2 separate regions of the Homo sapiens genome follow, and region 2 is linked to region 1. Evidence: fine-mapped expression QTL. A gene starts in region 1. The other region holds a variant in brackets. All regions are shown on one strand. Distances are between the middles of the regions. Region 1 holds the start of SH3BP2 (SH3 domain binding protein 2). Region 2 overlaps SH3BP2 (SH3 domain binding protein 2).

Evidence for each region.
Region 2: its variant is fine-mapped to the expression of SH3BP2 in whole blood (TOPMed, PIP above 0.99).

Annotation. Positions count from the first base shown.
Region 1 is chr4:2,787,360-2,797,955 of GRCh38, reverse strand. It overlaps SH3BP2 (SH3 domain binding protein 2), which reads right to left and starts at 4,871. Exons shown (of 13, transcript NM_001122681.2): 1 at 4,818-4,871. RefSeq lists a silencer at 4,804-5,153 and enhancers at 9,798-9,857, 9,440-10,074, 10,198-10,507.
Region 2 is chr4:2,824,929-2,834,386 of GRCh38, reverse strand. It overlaps SH3BP2 (SH3 domain binding protein 2), which reads right to left. Exons shown (of 13, transcript NM_001122681.2): 5 at 9,191-9,261; 6 at 7,069-7,157; 7 at 6,713-6,781; 8 at 4,240-4,894; 9 at 2,708-2,816; 10 at 2,409-2,464; 11 at 1,975-2,056; 12 at 1,338-1,397; 13 at 1-690. The coding sequence ends at 553. Among named protein-coding and RNA genes, the nearest start is that of ADD1, 14 kb to the left of the region's middle. RefSeq lists enhancers at 6,666-7,551, 7,552-8,438. The variant G/C (reference allele first, on the strand shown) is at 4,932.

The sequences.
Region 1 (10,596 bases):
GGCTGACTGGCACATTAGGCTCTGATGCTCAGTAGAGTTAAACACAGGTGGGGGGAGTGACAAGCCACCTTCAAAGAGCTTGGCACAGCCCGCCCGTTGCCCGCGCCACTTCCCTGCCCAGGAGTGGGAGGCTGGGAGAGCCGGCACTCCCCTCACCCTTCCTCTGGGACAGGCCCACGTGGGCACCACCAGGGCATGGGCTCTCAGACGCGACCCTGACCTTCCTGAGTTCCCAAGCAGGAGGGGCAGGCGGACAGGTCACCATGGATGGGTCAACATGCATGGTGGCCATAGACCAGGCTGGGGGCTCAGGAAGGCACCCAGCTCAGGGTGGAGTTGGGGGTGGCCAGGGAGGGTACCCTGAGCACCAAGCAGGACAGACACTTATGTCTTCAGCTGAAATTGCTTCTAAGGGAGAGAGTGGCAAGGTGGGCCAGGCAGGTGAGCTGCTACCCATGGGCACCTGCCAGCGGTCCTGCCCTCTGACCTGTGGCCTGTCTGCTCTTGCAGTGCATGCCTAGCCCAGGGCCCAGTACACAGGCACCCAGTGTTGCATGAGTGGGGCCCGGGGCTGGGCAGCAGCCTTCTGAAGGAGGTCCACCACTGCCCCAGAGGCAGAAACCAGGGTGGGTGGTAAAGGCGCACCACTGCCCCAGACTCCCAAGGCTGAGAAAAAGCCAAGGACCGCCCAGCATTCCAGGCTCCCAGAATGACCCCTGATCCCTTCCCACCTTGTCCAGGGGCAGCCAGCAGCAAGGGCCCACCCCTATGCCTAGCTCAGGACAGTGGACAGGGCTGCAGGGCATGGGGACCCAGGACCCTCAAATGCCACAGAAGAGCATCACTAGATTACAACACCCCTGGATCGAGGCTGAAGGAACTCCCCCAAACGGAGCTGCCCATTCACACAGTGTCAAGGGCAGGGAGGCCCTAGCTCGGGCCTGGGGATCTGGCCTCCCATGAGTTAGACCTACTTTCACCCCATTTCACAAGGAGGACGCTGAAGCCCTCAGACGAAGCCTGCTCTGAGCCCAGAACTCAGCTCCCCTCTGGTGCCTGAGAGAAGCTCTGTGCCGCTTCCCTCGGCCCCTGCCTCGCGGCCTCAGCCCCGTGTGCCATGGCACGCACACTGCCTTCTTGAGGCTGTTGCCTGCCAGCCTGGCTGACCCTGGGGTGGGGAGCTGGCCTCCCTCTGCAGGCTTGAGCAGACAGGCACCCTACGCCCCACCCAGCTGCCTGGAGCAGGCTCAGCAGGAGCGCAGTAAACATCTGATTCACAAGGAAGCAGAGGGCACTTCTTGGAATCAGCTCAGCTACAGGGATGGGGGTATGGATACCACGAGGGCGCTCTGCCAACCCCTCAGGGCTCCTCTGATCTCCCCAGGCAACTGCTCCAGGTGGCCGAGCCCACATTCTTCCCAGAGGCCAGCTGACAAAGATGGACCAGATGTGACCGGAATCCATGAAGAAAGGGCCAGTCACCTCAGGGCGTTGGGGCCAGCAGTTCCAGCACGATCTGTGATCGGGGGCCGGGAAACCAAGCAGGGCCTGACCACTCTCATGGCCTTGGAAGTTACAGAGCCTGGGGAGAAGAGAGAAGGTTGGGGGAGGGCACCTTTCTCCCCTCCTGGGAGCCTGCACCACCTCGAACTCCTGTCTGACCCAGGTCTCCACCCGCCCCGAACCTGGGCACGTGCTTCTCTCGCGTCACCCTTGAAGGATGAGTGTAGTCAGGGGCCCGGCACGGAACCCAAATCCAGCAGCGTGGTCCAGAGCCAGGGACTTCTGTCATCCCGTTTTGCAGATCAGGAAACTGAGGGTCAGGAAGTGCAATTCGCCTACAAGGCTCAGGTCTCCTGGCCCGTGGCTGAGGGCCAGTCCCTTGCTCTTGGCACCATCCTGTCTACCCTCCCGTGCACAGGCCAAGGGGTGGTGAGGAGGGTCCAGTGCCCCAGGGAAGGGGGCCAGCCAGTGAGCCTGAAATGCTCCCTACCACCCCCTCTGGGACTTAGGCAGCCCACACGTGGGACTGTCTCCAGCCCCTCGGTGTCCAGACAGGGCCACCAGAAGAATGCAGAGGCCTTCTGGGGAGGAGCCGCCTATCCTGGAGGAAGGATTCCAGGGTCTGCACGGCCCCTTCTCCTTGCCTCCCAGGCCCCTCCATACCCTCACCACACCTGGCATGCAAAGGCCACTCCCGTCAAACTGGTCTCCCACCCTCCCTACCGCCCGCCTTTGGCTTAGTCTGTCTGTACCTGCATGGCTGCCCGCCCGGCTCAGATCCCTCCTCCTGACGGCCCACCCTGTATTCATTGGCCCGAGGGGTGGGAGCCGCTCCACTGCGTCTGGGGTAGGACAGCTCTCACCTTGTGGCAAATTCCCCGTCTTTTCCCCGCCAGCCTGCCCTTCTCCTCACCCACCCAGGCTGCACAGTGATGGCCAAGCCACCCGGTTATTAAAGAACTATATACTCTGCCAGGCGTGGGGGCTCACGCCTGTAATCCCAGCACTTTGGGAGGTGGGCAGATCATGAGGTCAAGAGAGGACAGAGAGTGAGGAGGGCAGAGCCTGCCACACATAGTCACTGACCTGGGGTGTCCCCACAAGGGAGCTTTTGAGGACAGAACGCAGGAAGACCCAGGGGCTGCCCAACACTGGCCACTCCTGATGGACTCAGGCCTTAGTCCAATGTGGGCAGGAACCTGGGAGCCTTGGCCTTTACCCAGGCCTCTCCAGGCCAGTCCCTGCCCCCACCCAAAACAGGACATACAGCGGCCCTGAGGACCAGGGAGAGCACCCTCAGCGACCCACTGTCACTGAATACCAAGCACATGTCACCACCACCACCATCCCCCCTACGGACACTCATAGCCACCCACCAGGTACAAAGTGCTTCACAGCCCTCAGGTCATGGATGAGAAAACGGAGGGGTGGCAGGGGGAAGCCTCCTGGCCATGATCACACAGCTGGAAACTGGTGGCATCTGAGTTCACACCCAAGATCCTGGCTGAGTTTGCGCCCTTCCTCCCTGCCCCTCAGGAACCAAGGCTGGCCATCTCGTCTCTCTGGGCCCCTGGACTTCCCGTCTGTGGGCCTGCTTGTGTGCGTGCATCCCTGGGGGGTGGGGAGCTCCAGCTGACTCAGCACCCTGCTTCCTCTGTCCATGTGGGCAGAAAGGGCCAAGGCAGGCCCAGAGCCTGTCCTCCCTCTGTCTGCCTCTTCAGGCCAGCCTCCTTGGTGGGCTCCCCCATGATCCTGGAGGCCTGGGGACTCCCTGAAAGGCCAGGTCCCCTGTCAGCACCCCTCTCACCAGATGGCCCTGGCTGGCAGTTCCTAGACACGGCTGCCTATCTGTCTTCCTTCTGCCTGCCCCCTCCAGGGTGTGCCTAACGCAGGGCACAGAGCCAGGCAAAGGGAGCCTGGCGGGTGGCAGGGAGAGGGGATAGACAGAATCCTCACTCCCTTGCAGCCCTCGTCCCAGGCCTCCTGTCCTGCCAGGAGTGGAGTGCCTGGAGTGGGGCCCTGAGGTTGGGCTCCAAGAGGGCCCTTCGACGGTGTCTACGTAGAGGAGACAGTGGACAGAGTGGGAAGAACCAGGAGGGGGTGGAGCCCAGCCCCTCCTCTGGTCCCACAGGGCCTGAGCCAGTGAGGGCAGGAGCTTGTCCAGGCTCATGGAGTTGGTGCAGGGCTGACCTGAACCCAGAGGCTTGCTTCGGCAAGGAGGAGGCTGTGGGCCCTGCCTTCAGGCGGTTGTGGAAACAATTCTACACATTGCATCACCGGCCCATGTCACCTGCAAGGCCACACACATGTCATCCAGGCAGGCTGTCCACCCCAGCAGCCCACACGGAGTACCCGCCCCTGGCCACAGCCAATTCGAAGGACTTAAGTGTGGCCACTAGACCAGGAGGCACAGCTGTCCCCAGTGTCAACAGATGAGCAAACTGAGGCACAGAGAGGGGATAGGAGGTGCTCACGGAAAGGAGCACCAGCAGAAGGCTCCCCACAGCAGGGCTCAGGCCCTCAATACCCCCAGGGAGCCGAGGCCCAGAGCAGCGGGAAAGTGCTGGGCTGCAGGGAGGCCAGCGTACAGGTGGAAGGGGCTGTCCCCGCCCCCTAACTCCTCCAGTCCCTCTGCCACCCCTGAGATTCCCTGTTGCCCATGAGAGTCTCAGACGCCCGGCTATCAGTCACTCACACTTCAGTGTGAATCAGCGCCAGTGGGCGGCTTTTCTTGCCCTCCGTGAAGCGCGGCCGCTGCAGAGGGAAGTTTGGATTCCGGGAAGGGCGGAGAGCGAGTGCCCGCCGCAGCCTTTGAGTCTTGTGGGGAGGGTCGCGTAAAGGGGCCCCGCCGCGGGGCCAGAGGGGCGCGAGGGGTGCGAAACAGACGCGTCGCACCGCCTCCCACCCCTGAGCCCCCGGCAAGGGACACCCGGCCCCCGCCCCGAAGCCGCGCTCCCTCGGGCACTGCCCGCCGTGCCCAGGCCCCGTGCGTCCTTTGGCAAGGACACGGAGGCCCCGGGGCCCGGGGGAGGCTGCTGCGCACCCGAGACCCCCGACACCCGCCCATACCTGCCGGGACCCTGAGACTCCCCCGAGACCTGCCAAGACCTGCCGGGACCCCTGAGACTCCCCGGAGACTCCCCCGAGACCCCCGAGACCCGCCGAGACCTGTCGGGACCCCGAGACTCCCCCGAGACCCCCGAGACCCGCCGAGAGCCCCCAGACCGCCAAGGCCCGCCGAGCCCCTTCCAGACGCGGAGACCGCCCCCCCGCGAGACCCCCGAGACCCGCCGAGACCCGCCGCCGAGGCTTACCCGCCGAGCGCTCTCCTGGCCCGCGGGCCCTGGGTCGAGGCGGCGGCTTGACTCGGCCGCCAGGCGCTCCCGCCCGCGGGACCCGCCGCCGCCGCAGCTCCGTCCCGCCCGCGCCCGCCCAGTCCGCCCTCCTCCTGGCCCCGCCCCGGCCCCGCCCCTCCCCGGCGGGTCCCGCAATCCTGGAGGTCCGAGCTGGGCGTGGGGCGGGGCCGGTACCTCAGGGTGGGCGGGGAACTGCACGTGGCCTCCGCGGCCCCGGGACGAGGCCCCTGGGGGGCGAAGACTGGCGTTGTCGCGGGCCTAGACGCCGGGTCCACAGTAGGTGCTTAGTTCTCGCCCGTGAGTGAGGTAGCGTGTCTGTCCCTCCTGCGTGTCCCTCCCAGTGACACCCCAGTGCCCAGCGACCCAGGTGGAAAGGGCGCTGTCCACCCCCCCAGCCCCGTGGTCCTGATCCTGGGCGGCCCCACCCCTGCCCCGTGAGTGCGACTTAGGCCCTGGCCAAGACAGGAGCAGGGGAGGTGGGGGAGGGCTTGCTGGGCACCAGGAAACCTTGTCTTTGTTTCCAAATGTCCTCCAGGGTACTTTTCAGGCACTTCCCAGGGGGACCTCGCCTCTTGGACCAGGTCTGGACTCCGGTGGCCCAGAGGTCGTCTTGGGGCTGGGAGGCACAGGAGACCGGGTGCTTTACACTTGGCCTCCTCTGAGGCTCCCTTTCCTCCACCATCACCCTCTCCCTAAGAGTAGGCCCAGATGCCTTGGTGTAAGGGCAGGGGCGAGAAGAGGAGGGGCTTCCTGGGAGGAAATGGCTTCCCTGGGGAGCTCTCAGGGCCAGGTAGGTGGAGGGAGCCGTGGAGAAAGTGAAGAGGCTGGGGAGACCAAGCTGGGCCTGCAGAGCTTGAGGGCGAGCGGACCCCCCACCAGTGCGGGAGTCAACTGCTTGGGGCGTGGGGGGACTCCTCCCCATGAGGAGTGGGGACTGGACCCCAGGTCCCAGAGCCCAGGAAGCTGTGAGTAGAGGAAGGACAGGATCTTGCTGGGAACCCAAGGGAGCTGGGGGTGGGTGGTGGTGACCTGGCCCTGTCCAGGCAGGCGGCCAAGGTCTGACCCTCTGTACTGAGCACAAGAGGCCAGAGTCCAATGACAGGGGCTGAATTGGCTGCTCCAAATCAGGCAGGGGCAGGGGTGTCCAGGGCTGGCCCTGCAGCAGGTGAAGGACTGGGTTTGGGTCCTACAGGTTGAAATACCTGAGGGCCTCCAGGAGACACAGCCAAACCAAGCGGGTTCTCAGGGTTGCAGCTGGACCGAGTGTGGGCCAAGTCACCGTCCACCTGTCCCAGAGCTGCCCAATAATGGGTCCCAAGCCTCAGAAAGGGGATCCCTGGCTGCAATAGCCCTCCTCCCTGCTGGAGAGACACACTTGGGATCAGAGAGGTTAACTGGGGAGGGGAGTAAGTGGGAGGAGTCAGAAAACTAGGTGGCCAGGCCCTGAGCCCAGGCATAGAGGAAGAGCCAGTGCCTACCAGGAAGTGACCAGGACCAAGGCAGGGCCTCTGGAAGGGAAGGGACAAAGCAGGGGATGGCAGAGGCAGGGGAGGATATGGGAGAGTCTTCAGACAACAGGGCCCCTTTTCCCCATCTGTGAAATGGAGGGGGTCCTCTACTGGGGAGGCGGCAGAAGTGGATGGGGCATGACAGCAGGCAGATACTCACTCTACCTGGCCCAGGGCCACCCCTCACACCGGCGCTGGGGCTGTGACTCTACCCACCTACAGCCTAGCTCTCGGGGCTGAACTTAGACCCCAGTGAGGGAGTAGATGGGTGCTGGCTGGCTGGGGTGCTCACTCTCTGGGGTGCCTGCTCACATCCCCACCTGTAAGTGTCCTGGGCCTGGCTCCCCAGGTCTCAACTCTGCTCATCCCAGCATTGGGTAGCCTGCAACTCTTCTGCCCACCCCCCACTCTGGGCTATTTCACATTTTCCTAGCAGGGAGGAAGAGATAGGAACTACAGCCATTGTGGAAGTGGCTGGGCTCAGCCCCATCCGACGTTCAGTGCTGCCACTGTTAGCACCGCATGGGGCTGCGTCACTCCTGTAAGAGGCCACATGCGGAGGGAGCTCCAGGCTGGGCCAGACTGGTCTAAGGCTCCTGACAAAACACTCATGACCTTGGGGCTGTACATCTTGATGTCCCTGATGTCCAGTTCAGCTAAATAAATGCCTGGCCCCACACCAGACCCCGGGGACCCAAGATGATACAAGGAAGTCCCTACCCTTGTGGCTCACGAGAGGAGCAAATGGACAAATGAGCAGATGCCATTGGGTCACAGCAAGTGTCCTGTTCCCAGGGGACCAGCTGGGGAAAGGGGCAGAGACCGGGAGGGGAGTGGAGCAAAGCCAAACGTCGGTGCGGCCCCGCCAGGGCCTGACTACAGGGCAGGGTGTACAGGGCTGGCCTCAGATGCCAAGCTCAGAGTTGACGGAGCAGGGTCACTGCAGACAGTGTGGACGGACCAGGCGCCTAGAGAATGATCACCCAGAAATGCAAAGCACCTCTGTGCAGGGCACCTCAGCCAAACAGGGGGAACAGGGTGCAGCCTCCACCGTGGGGAGAATCCCACACCTCATATTCCTCCCCTTCTCCCCCCTTACCAGTCCAACCCCAGGGCGTGGGAGGAAGGAACTCCTAGTTGGGGCCTCAGGGCAGCTCCCAGCAGCCCCTCCGAGCAAGAAGCTGCTGGAGGCTGTGGCCAGAGCCTCTGGGCACCCAGGGGTTCCGCTGAGGCTGACAGAGCAGGGATGGGTGAGGAGGATGACCTCGCCTGCTGGGAGGGTATGCAGGGCAGGTGAGCAGAGGTAAGGCGAGGACCCCTGGCCGGCAGGGAGCTGGGGAGCAGACCTCCACAGGGCACATCCGGGGTAGAAGCCCATGGTGATGCCCCAATCACACCCACAGAATAAGGCCAAAGAGAAGGGGGCCGGTCCCCCGCCACACCCATCCCCCGTGTGCCATCGGCCATGCCACTGATTTGGCAGGACCCAGAACAGGCAGAGGCAGCTGCTGTCTGGGGGGTAGGGCAGGACCTGCTGAGGGTGAGGCTGACGGTTAGGATGGCGAGGGCAAGATCTGCCGCTGGTCTACGTGTCACAGGCGTCCCAGCAGGGGGCTTCATGCGCCTGCCAAGTCTCTTTTTCCTTCCCTGGGCCAGCAACCCTGGAGTCGTCCGCACTGATGCCTCTCTGCTCGCCCCACATCCCGTCCGCCCTGAAGGTTCTGTTGGCAAAGCACACCTGGAATCCTGCCTTTCTCAGCCCCTGCCTGCCTCATCCTCCCTCTCCTGCGCTTGCCTGGCAGTGTCCATCATCACACCAGAGGGGTGCAGTCACAGTGTGAGTCAGGTCATGTCACTTCTTCACTCAGAACTTTCTGTAGATCCCACCTCCCCCAAGGCAAATGCCTTCTATCCTTGCATGGGCAGGGCCCAGACCGAGCCTGTGCCACCTGCCTGCTCCCTGAGTTCTCTCTCCATAGCCCCGCTTAGCATTGGCCACACTGGCCTCCTGTCTCCTCCAGCACCGCAGACACATTCCCACCTCAGGGCCTTTGCACTTGCCATTCCTGCCCCTAGATCACCCTTGGCGGGTGTGCCTGGACCCCTCGCTTCCCTTGGTCTGGGCTCTGCTTCCAGGGCACCTGAGTTACAAAATAGACTCCCAGTGCATGATTGGTGAATGAACAGACAAAGGCCTCAAGGGGCAGCCCCAAGGAAGGGGCTAGGTAGGTTTTGTTTTTGTTCTTTTGTTTTGAGATAGGGTCTCACTCTGTTGCCCAGGCTGGAGTGCAGTGGCACTGCAGCCTCAACCTCCTGGGCTCAGGTGAGCCTCCCACCTCAGCTGGGACTATAGGCATGTGCCACCACACCCAACTAATTTTTATTTATTTATATTTTTTATTTTTTTGTAGAAATAGCGTCTCACCATGTTGCCCAGACTGGTCTCGAACTACTGGGCTCAAACGATCCACCCACCTCAGCTCCCAAAGTGCTGGGATTACTGGCATGAGCCACTGTGCCCATCCTAGCCAGGTTTTGGAGCTGCCACCTGGGTCCCGTGTCCAGAGGACCTTGGAAGCATGGACCCTGCCCTCCCACCTGTCCCTGTCCCCAGGAGTGGCCCCACAGTGATACAGTGTACCACCTCACCAGGCCGCCTCGCTAGGAGAGGCAATTCCTGAGTAGGGCCAAGGCCACAGGCTTCCCACCTGCTTCCCTGGGGATAGGAGGGGACAGGTTCCCACCCTACCTCCCCCAATCCCCACTCCCTGGGGGAGGCTGTGTGGAGTCATCCTGCCACACAGTCCAGTCCCCTGGCCACACAGCCCAGCACTGGAGGGAGGGGCAGAGGGGGTGTGGGGGAGGATTGTGGCTCATGGGAAGAGGAGTTTGAGGAGGCAGGCTGGGCCTCACACGCAGGCATCAGTCTGGCTCTGAGGACAGGGCTGGGGGCTGGCATCTCTCCCAGGAGGCTGGGCTGGTGGCAGGCACTCTGGCAGGGAGGGCAGGCTGGACAGGAGTGGCCCCTCCCAGGCTCTGGGCCATCTCTGCATCCCAGGCCAGGCCTGGCTGCCTCACGCCTTGCCCTGGGTGGGATGGGGAATATTTTCTCCTTTACCGAATGAAGGGGAAAGGAGCAGCCTGGGGCTGGAGGGGGAGCAGTGGAGGTTGGGTGGGATGGTAGGACGTGTGTGCTGGTTGAGGGGTGGAAGCATGGAGGCCCGCTCAGGTCTCAGCCAGACCCCACGCCAGAGTGCCCTGCACACTGGCCTCCCCTCTGCCTCCACTGCCCTCCAGCGTCATCCCGGGAAAGCCAGCTCAGTAGCATTACCCCAGGGGACCTCCCCAGACCCCCACAGTCATGCCCAGATGTGCACCTACATCCCACCACACTGCCCAGAACTAGCCTTCCTCACCACCCCATCCCACCCCCTAGGCTGGGGCGCCTTGAGGTCAGGGCTCTTCCAGTGGCTCTGGTCCCCAGGATGGTCCAACACGGGGCCCTGCTCAGAAAACATCCTCAGTGGGTGGCCCCAGCCTGTGGGCTTCTGGCCAGCTGCCCTCAGTGAGCCTGTGGAGGGTGGGGCCCACAGCCAGCTTGCCCACTGCCCCTCGTGCCTGGGACAGGCCTGGCTTCCTGGCCAGCCTGAGAGCTGGTAAAGGCTGACGAAGTCGGCGAAGGCTCTTTGGGGACAGTAGGACTGAGCTGGGCTCCCACAACCTGGGAGGACTCTCCTGGCAGGGGCACAGCGCTAGAGGGCAGAGTGAGGGAAATAGAGCCAGAGTTCACGCCAGGTCAAGGGCCAGCCAGCGCCCCCAGGCCACCAGCACTCCCCAGGAGGGCCTGCCCTGCCTGCCTGGCTGCCACACCTCTAGCCCAGGTCAGCTGCTGGCTCTGTCCTCTGAGGTTTGCTTGAGTCAATTTTCTACATAAAACGAGAGTGTCAGGCAGGTCCCATTAGGAAGCTCTATTTTGTAATACCAGGCCTGTGGGTGGAGGACCCAGGACCCACGCACGCACTGGCTTTTCTATTTTTACATCCAGAGTCGCCTGCTCTCACCCCCAGAGCCCAATTTGGAACTTGAAAGCAGCACATTCTATTCTGGGGCCACTTCCGGCCCCTGTGCCGTGGGAGGTGGGTGTTTGTACACAACAGCGTGCCCCACCCGCCTCCCTCCAAAACACCCCCTCTCCTGTCACCCCCCACCCCCACCACCACCCCCTGCCA
Region 2 (9,458 bases), 37 kb before region 1:
GGTTCCCGGGTACTGCTGCGGTCACCACTTAGACATCAGCATGGGCACCCAGTAAGCTGGTAATCCCCTCCTTCCCAATCAAGCCCCAGCCACCAAGGCAAAGCTCACTGCTGCTTTATTGGAGGCAACAGCCCCTACTGGAGCCTGTGTCTTAGCGTTCCTGGGGGTCCCAGGGCCAGCCCCGGCCCCCACCCAGCTGCCCTGGCCCTGCCTGGCTCCCAGCCCACTTAGGGGTGAGTGTGATGGGGGGACCAGTGTTCCTGTCCTTGGAGCCCAGGCACAGCTTGGTCCTGGGTTTCTGGGATTGGGACAGGGCAAGTTAGTGTGGGGCAACAGAGTCCCTTCGTCCTCTGGAGCCTGGCGCCTGGTTCAGCCCTAGAACCCAACCTGCTGGATGAGACTGGCTGGGTCCTACGAGATGTCCATCACAGAGGCCCTAGGCAAGCACAGCCTTGCTCCTGCTCACCCTCCCATGTGGGCCCATGTCCGTCTGTGTGGCCTGGGGTCAGGGCCCCTGTGACTGCCTTGGCCTGGCAGCCACATGGACTGCCATCACCTAGGCCCAGTGTAGCCGTAGGGGTGCCGCAGCAGCAGGCTCTGGTGGCTGGGCAGCACGTGGGTGTGGTAGTGCTCCACCATGCTGCCCACACTCACAAACAGGACCTCGCCCTCCAGGTAGAACTTAGAGTCCTGTGGGGGAAGAGAAGGGGGAGCGTCAGCAGGGCCAGGCCACTCTGCGGCTCTAGGCCTCAGTCTCCCCGTCTGTAAAACAAGGCAGCAGCATCAACAGCGGCATCACCAGGCTGGCCCCTGGCTGTCGGTGGTGCCCCCAAGGTGGCCTCCGCATCAGGCCTGTGCTCTCCATGTTCCCACCTCACTTCCCCTCCGTCCTCCATGTCCAGGAGCCTGCACCCAGAGCACTTCAGACAAGGTCAGGAAATGAACCTAGGCCAGGCACGGTGGCCCACGCCTGTAATCCCAGCACTGTGGGAGGCCGAGGTGGGAGGATTGCTTGAGCCCCAGAATTTGAAACCAGCCTGAGAAAGACAGTGAGACCCCTGTCCCCGCAAAAAGAAAAAGACAAGACAAGCAACCCAGGGTCTATGGCTGACCGCCCATCCCCACTAGGGTCAGTGGAGGACAAAGGTAGGCCACGAGAGGAGGGAGGCTGAGCAGGAGGGGTGGGGGGTGAGCGATGGTGGAGGGGAAGGGGAGGGCGGTATCCTGGAGGTGCCAGTCTCAGTCTACCCGCTGCCTATGCCTCATCAGGGAGATTCTGCCCTGCCCCTTGCCAGGCCATGCGGCCAGGGTCCCCGTCCCACTCAGAGCCCTCTCACCTTCTCAAAAATGCGATAGTTCCTCACTTTGTTAGAGGTTTCGTCCCACACAACCAGGACCTACAGGACGGAAGCGGGAGGCTGACGGCTCCCTGAGAAACAGCGGGACCAGCCTCGGGAGACCATGGGCTGGGGATAGGGGGGCAGAACCATCAAGGCTGGGTCCTGTGGCCCTCGGGGGGCGGGGAGGGACTCCAGACCACCTGCACAAGGACAGCGGGGGCGACACTGGCAGCCCTCAGAGAGCCTCTGATGAGCAACAGCTCATAACCACCAATAACCACTCCGACACACCCGGGAGAGCATGGCTCAGTGAGGTCACAACTTCACGCTCGGAGGGACACGGGCAGACCTGGCGTTCCCCTGCCCCATGTGGCCTCCGCCACCCCAGAGCATGAGCCCTACCCCACCCGAGTCCTGGCCCCCACTGGGAGGTGGCCATCATGGCCCCCAATTTGCAGATGGAGATCTATTAGGGAATAGATTGGGGGGTGCTGCTGGGAAGAGAATTCAGCTGAGACACCAAGTAAGAGTCCACAAGGGGAGTGGTTTAGGAACTGTGGAGTCCTGGGCCCACCCACAGCCTGGGTGTGTGGAGAGCCAGAGGGGCCCTGGGGCATCTTCCCCTGGCGCCTACCTTCCCCGACTTGGTAGAGGAGTTCCGGATGCAGTAGAGTCCATCCTGGGGCTCTCCCCGGGGGCTTGTAGCCTTGAACAACCTAAAATAAGACAGTCATATTAGCGGGTGAGTCCTCCTCGGGCAGCTTTCACACGGACCTTCCCGCCCCGCTCCCAAGCCTGGCTTTCTGTCCTCTCGCTGTTGTAGGTCTCAGGAGCTGAGCACGTCGGGCTGCCGTGAGGCTGACAGAAGCAGCCCAGCAGAGCCCTGGCCAGCCAGGGTGCCAGCTGGGCATGGGACAGAGCAGGGAGGTCCACTCCTCTGGTTTCTGCTGCACGCAGGGCCATGAACTTGTGCCAGCAACTCCCCAACACGGAAGCTAGTGAGAGGGACACAGAAGCAGGAAGCCGGGCATGGCGGAGGACCCAGCACACACAGGGCTTTGTGCTGACCTTTCCACTTCGCAGGACTCCGTGGTGTTGACGAAGACCGAGTTGGGCAGTGGCACCTGCAAGAGGCTGACGGTGTCAGTGCCAACGTCGGAGTGATCCACCCGCACCACCACTCCCCGGACGGTGGCCACCCGGTGCCGGGATCCGGGGCTTTACATGGTGCTGTGTCCCCCTAGGCTCCCGGGTTCTCGGGGGGTCCTTGCTCAGGACGGTCTGTGAGGGGCCGCCCTGGCCTATGGCTTTCCCACCACCTGTCCACCTACTGGCCACTGGGACCCAGGCTTGCCGCTCAGCCTTGCCTTCTCATAGTCCTCGTCCGAGTCGTCCCCGCCAGTGTCAGCCTGTGAGGGTTGCCGGGGCTTTTCAAAGGAGAAGCTCCTGAAACTCTGCCCATCGGGGGGTGATCGCCTGGAGGGGCAGGGAGAGGAAGGCAGGACCATTTCACTGTCAGACACGGGGCGGCCACCCTCTGCTCCCCTCCCCACTCCACCCTCTGTGTGAGGACGGCAAGCTGCCTGCTATGGCCCCTGTGACCCTAAAAAGCTCAGGACAACAGAGATCCGGGTAGGGCTCGTGCCGACTGCCCTGGGACAGCAGGAATCGCCCGACACCGGAGTCAGGGGTCAGGGCTGCCATGGATGCTGGCAAGGGAGTCCAGGGTTCCCAAGCTCAGTGTCATCACACCGTCAACAAGTGCTCTGGATGCTCGTGGGGAGGGGAGGTCCGGTCATGGCCAAATCACAGCCCACTCAGAGCCACAGGGGAGTGGACGTGAACTGGATGAACAATGCAGTGTGACCCCAAAGGACGCCCATGGCGTCCCTGCACGCCTCCCTGTGTGGCTAGCCGGTCCTGCTCAGCAAAGCCTCAAAGGCTCTAGGGAGGATTAACGGGCCACGCCAGCATGGGAGGCCAGCCTGTGGGTGAGGCTGAGCCCTGGAACCGCTATCCCCACAGTCATGGAAAAACGTGACTTCCGAACATCTGCATCTCTGCAGCCCTTGGTGAACTAGAACCACGAGTGTGACAAGGGCTGCTCAGAGGCACTTCCACACAGGCAGCAGGCATCTCAGAGGTGTTCGCAGAGCCCTGGGAGAAGGGCACCGTGGGCAAGGGCATTCGGGGGTGCGCGTGCCGGCCAGCACACCCATGCGAAACCTGCCCCTCCAGTTCCTGGACCCTTTGCCTGCCAGGCAAGGCAGGAAGCCCACCTGGGGTCCCAGATGCCTTTGACCACAGCCATTGGCGTAACTCTGTGGGAGTGGGGGACAAACTGGTCTCCTGGCACTTCCCAGAAATAAAGCAGAAAGCATTTCAGCAGGACGCGGTGGCTCACGCCCGTAATCTCTACACTTTGAGAGGCCGAGGCAGGCGGATCACTTGAGACCAGGAGTTCAAGACCAACCTGGCCAACATAGTGAAACCCCTGTCTCTACTAAAAATACAAAAATTAGCCGGGCGTGTTGGCAGGTGCCTGTAGTCCCAGCTACTTGGGAGGCTGAGGCAGGAGAATCACCTGAACCCCGGAGGTGGAGGTTGCAGTGAGCTGAGATCGCACCACTGCACTCCAGCTTGGTTGCCAGCGTGAGACCCTGTCTCAAAAAGAAAAAAAAACAAAGCATTTCCAGCAAGCTTCAGGGCTGAGTCATGGACATGCTCCACGTTCCACCAAGGCGGACTGGAGGCAACCGGGAACCTTCCTACCCTTGCACCTGGTACCCCGTCGTGGGCTAAGAGTGCCAGGGGAGCGAGGTGGGCAGAGTGCCCGTCAGAGGCCAGGCCAGGGTCCCTGTAGCTGGAGGCAGGGCTTGCAGCCGCCACACAAACTCACTGGAGGTGCGGGAGCTGCGGCTTCTCTGGCCTGGGCAGGACTGCGGGCCGCGCCATGGCCTCAGGCACTGGCAGCTTCAGCGCAGGAGGCCGGGGAGCCACGGGGGGCACAAAGAGTCCGGGCATGGCTGCCTCCCTTGGGGGGTCCTCTTCAGCTATCTTCAGGAACTTGGGCTTGTTGGCTGGCACAGGTGGGGGCTCAGATGTGGGTGGTCCTCGGGGGGACAGGTGGAAGGACTTGAGTTTGTCACAGTTTCTGGAGGTGGCAGTGGCCATGATGGCAGCACTGGAAGTGGAGCAGGCCCCGTGGCCAGGGGTCCAGGGCTCCGGGCTGGGGCTGGCACTCTCCCGGAAGCAAGGGGGTTTCCGGAGGCCGGGTGCGGTGGGCATGGTGCTCAGAGGGGGATCGCTCATCCTTCGGGGGGTAGCAGGTACCCTGGGGCAAGGCTCAGCCCGCCTCGGGCACAGTGGGTCCCTCTTGGAGTCCTCAGCAGCCAGGCCAACATCTGGGAGGCCGTGCTTAGGGGGCGGGGGTGGCAGTAGGGGACCGGGGCCCTTGGAGGTAAAGGAGTGGGCCCGGGGCATGTCAGAGAAGGCTGGCTTCCTGGGCGTGGGCACTGGGGGTGGTGGGTAAGCCGGTGGGTGCATCAGGGCATCTGCAGAGCAAAGAGACCCGGGTTGGACCCTGACAGA[G/C]ACTGGGCCAACACTATCCTCTGCTGGCAGTGGTCAGCCAGGCCAACCAGGAGTGCAACCCATGGTAGGCCCACCCCACAGCCTGCCCACCCAGCAGCCCAGCACCCAGCACTCCCATCCTGCCTTCCCCAGGGTCCCAGACCACCCACCACCCCCAGCCTTCCCCATTCATCCTCCCTATGGCAGCCTGTGGACGCTTCCTGAAGCCTAGAGGACACCTGAGGAGCCCATCAGGTTCCCAGAGGTGGAAGGAAGAGAAAGGAAGAGAAGTCAAGAAGGATCTCAGGGCTCGGCTGGAGCGAGAGGGAGGACGGAATTCCCAAGGACAGGGGAGGGGAGCAGCTGGGAGGAAGGTGAAGGCCCGTGTTTGCTCAGAACATATCCAGAAAGCTGGGAGATGCCAGGGGATGCGGGGTCAGGGAATGTGTGCAGAGTTCAAAAATCCAGGCTGGACATGACTCGGAGCGGGCAGCCTGCAGATGACCCAGGCTGTCACCCAGGGAATTCGGGAGAGGAGTGAGGTCTGAGTCCCGGGTATCCCTCATGGGGCCAGCACAGGAGCTGAGGAGAAAGAGGACCCCGGGAGCACGGGGCGCCTGGAGGACGGGCTGGCAAGGAACAGGGCAGGCGCCAGGCTGGTGTGGCTCAGGACTGAGCGCTGGAACTGGGAATGGGGAGGCCACAGGCGTCCTGGACGAGAAATGTCTCGGGGAGAGGATGAAGGGGGTACAGAGGGAGGGTGAGTGGAGCAGTAGCATGCAGGAGCACTGGTGGCTCCCCAGGCCCATCTCTAGCCTCACTGGGCTGCAGCTCAGGGCTGGGCAGACGGAGTCTGAGTTCACCAAGGCTTGGCCAGCCAGGCTAAGACGGAAGGCAGTAGTGTGTGGGCGAAGGGACAGGCATGGTGAACACTGTGAGACAAGAGCTCTGCATGGAAGGAAACTGAGGCAAGCGGCCCGCAGACCCTCGTGGGCTGAAGGACTGTTGGCACTGGGACCCCAGAGGGAAGGAGGGAGGGAGCGGCAGGAGAAGAGGGGCTGGACCCGGGAGCCTGAAGGTGGGAGTGGATGGGAGGCAGAGAGGATACGGGGTCAGGGGCTGGGGTCGGCAGAGGCCAAGTCAGTGAGAACAGGAGGCTGGAAAACAAGGAGGCAGGGCGGACGCAGGGAAAATGGAAGGATCAAGGATCAGCCCCAGACATGAGGAAATTGACAAGATGAGGGGGCTGGAGAGACAATAGGGAGGGAGGAAGGGAGGGAGGCGACAGAGGAGGACAGAGACACGTCCTCCCCACCCAGCTCGTGCTTCCGTCATCCACGTGTGACCACCTGTATCAGCCTGTCTCTTTGACTAGGCCATGTGCTGCAGGAGGTAGGTGGACACTGGGATGGGATGGGGTGGGGTGGGACAACGACCTGGCCTGCAGCAGTGTCCACACAAGCTGGCAGCCATGGGGACATGGACCTGCCCTGAGCCTGCGCGCTCCTCAGCGTCCTTCCTTCCCCATGCTTAACCCCCAGGGCCACCCCGGCTCCACCTGCCACTTATCGCCATGTGCCTGTCCCTCCTCCTGGGAGGTGGGAGGAGGAAATGAGCAGAGGTGGCAGCAGCTACACCTCTTCTGCTCCAATCCTCATAATACTTGGGACACAGCAGGGAAGCGGAAGCCACCCAGAGCGGTACCTGGGCCAGCATCCCCAGCCTCGGAGGGGCTCTGCTCCCGGTCCCAGCCCCTGCTTCCTACACACCCAGAGCTCCCCGGGCCCACCCGCCCCACCTACCCTCAAGCCTTCCGGGCTCCGGGGAGTCAGGCTCCAGGTAGGAGTCATCCTCATCGTCGTGCTCATAGTCTGCATGGGGAGAGGGGGGTGGTGAGAGCCAAACCGGCCCAGGCCCAGTCTCCGAGCAATGCTCCATGCATGGGGCTGAGTCCAGGAGGCAAGGGGCAAGCACCTGCTGGGAGGACTGTGAGTCCAGACCCTGCCGCTGAAGGCCAGAGCCCAGGGATGCTACTGCGCACTGCCAAAGGGCCAGAGCAAGGAGCACAGCCGAACACACCTCCCTCTCCTCCACAGCGGCCAAGAGGAGGCCAGGTGGGGAGAGGCAAACGGGCAGTGGATGCGGAGAAAGACCTCACCTTCATTGTCCGTGGGGTACGGGGAAAGGCTGATATCCACAGGCCGCTCAACTGCGCCGTAGAAGCTGTCTGTGTCCGAGCTGGAGTCGCTGCAATGCAGGGTGCGTTGGGGCGGACGGTGAGCACCAGGCCTGGGAGGTCCCTTGATGCTCACACAAAGGTACACACAGGCACACGCGGATACATGGACAGATACACAGATGCACACACGGATACACTGACAAACACATGCACACATGGTTAAGCTGACAGACACACACATGCACACACGGATACGCTGACAGACACACACATGCACACATGGATACGCTGACAGACACACACATGCACACATACTCTGACAAACACACAAATGCACACGTGCACACACAAGCACACGCAGGAACACAGGCACACAGGCATGGATATATATACACAAAGACACAGGGACACGCGCAGACATGTAGACACACAGACACAAGGACTCTGTCACACAGACATGGAAGTATACAGATAAACACAGATACAGGACAAGCACACATGTTCACACACAGACGAGCGACACACGGACACGCACACACAAACACAAGCAACACGCGGACATGCACACACACAGAGCAACATGCGGACATGCACACACACACAGAGCAACATGAGGACATGCACACACACAGAGCAACACGTGGACATGCACACACACACAGAGCAACACGCAGACATGCACACACAAACACAGAGCAACACACAGACATGCACACACACACAGAGCAACATGCAGACATGCACACACACACACACAGAGCAACACGCGGACATGCACACACACACAGAGCAACACGCAGACATGCACACACAAACAGCAACACGCGGACATGCACACACACAGAGCAACACGCGGACATGCACACACAAACACAGAGCAACACGTGGACATGCACACACACAGAGCAACACGCGGACATGCACACACAAACACAGAGCAACACGCAGACATGCACACACAAACACAGAGCAACACGTGGACATTGCACACACACACACAGAGCAACACGCGGACATGCACACACACAGAGCAACACGCGGACATGCACACACACGGAGCAACACGCGGACATGCACACACAGTTACAAGGACAGACAGAAGAACTGGAGGCTGTGGTGCCTCCACTAGGTGCCCCTTCTGGCCCACAAGGATGGCCGCCCTGACTGTGCCCACGTCTCCACCTGCTCCTGCCTCAAGAGGGCTTGGGCGACTCTGGGCTGGGCCCGAGGCTGAACAGCTTGGACCAGGGGACGGGAGCCCGGAGTCAGGCAGGGACCTGCAGGGCAGCCTTGGCTGTGCCCAGCCCTCCCTGGGCCTCCTGTCCCCACCTGTGAAAGGACAGGAAGGTTTGTTCCCTCCACATCGTCTCGGGCCAGGAAGTCCCAATCCAGAGAGTATCTGCTGCACGTCGGGCCAGCTCACGGGGGAGGCTGCCAAGGCTCAGACTGCCCAGTGGCGCCCCGCCAGGAGAATCATTCTGGTCTCACTCTGAGTGAGCCAGGGTGGGCGTAGGGGGCTGGGAACCCAAAGTGCCCAGCTGCTGCCATGCCAGGCCTCCCTGGTGGCAGGCGTATAAACACACATGATCCCCTAACAGGAACTACCCATGGCGGCAACACAGAAACAGATGTGACAGATGGGGCTGGAGGTAGACAGGAGCAGAGAGATGCATGCACACCTGTGCATGCTCTGTGTGTGTGTGCATGTCTGTGTGTTGCTCTGTGTTTGTGTGTGCATGTCTGCGTGTTGCTGTGTGTGTGTGCATGTCCACGTGTTGCTGTGTGTGTGTGCATGTCCACGTGTTGCTCTGTGTGTGTGCGCATGTCCACGTGTTGCTCTGTGTGTGTGCATGTCCGCGTGTTGCTTGTGTTTGTGTGTGCGTGTCCGCGTGTCGCTCGTCTGTGTGTGAACATCTGTGCTTGTCCTGTATCTGTGTTTATCTGTAGACAGGAGCAGAGAGACGCAGCCCAGCTGGCACCTCCAGGAAACCTTTAAGGACGGAATTCTATGCCAAGCCCGGGGCTGGGAGGCGGACACCCGGGTCAGGCCCAGGCGCCCCAGGGACCCTCACTGCCCGGTATGCCCTGGGCCCGGGCTCACCTGGTGTCCAAGGGCAGGTCTTTCTTTTCGTGGAAGTGGCCAATCTCCCTGCGCAGCAAGGCCATCCAGCTCTGCAGGTCAGCGGGGCTGTGGTGGGCACGGTGCCACCAGGGTGGGCCCCACCGCACCCCTCCACCTTCACTGCCCTGCCTGCTCTGCTGTGACTCCCAAGGTCAGAGGAGGCGACCCGGCTGGATACAACATGGCTGTGTGGCTCCCCTCAGCCCACAGGGGCACCTCCCAGGACAGCATGTTCCTTGTGTGGGCG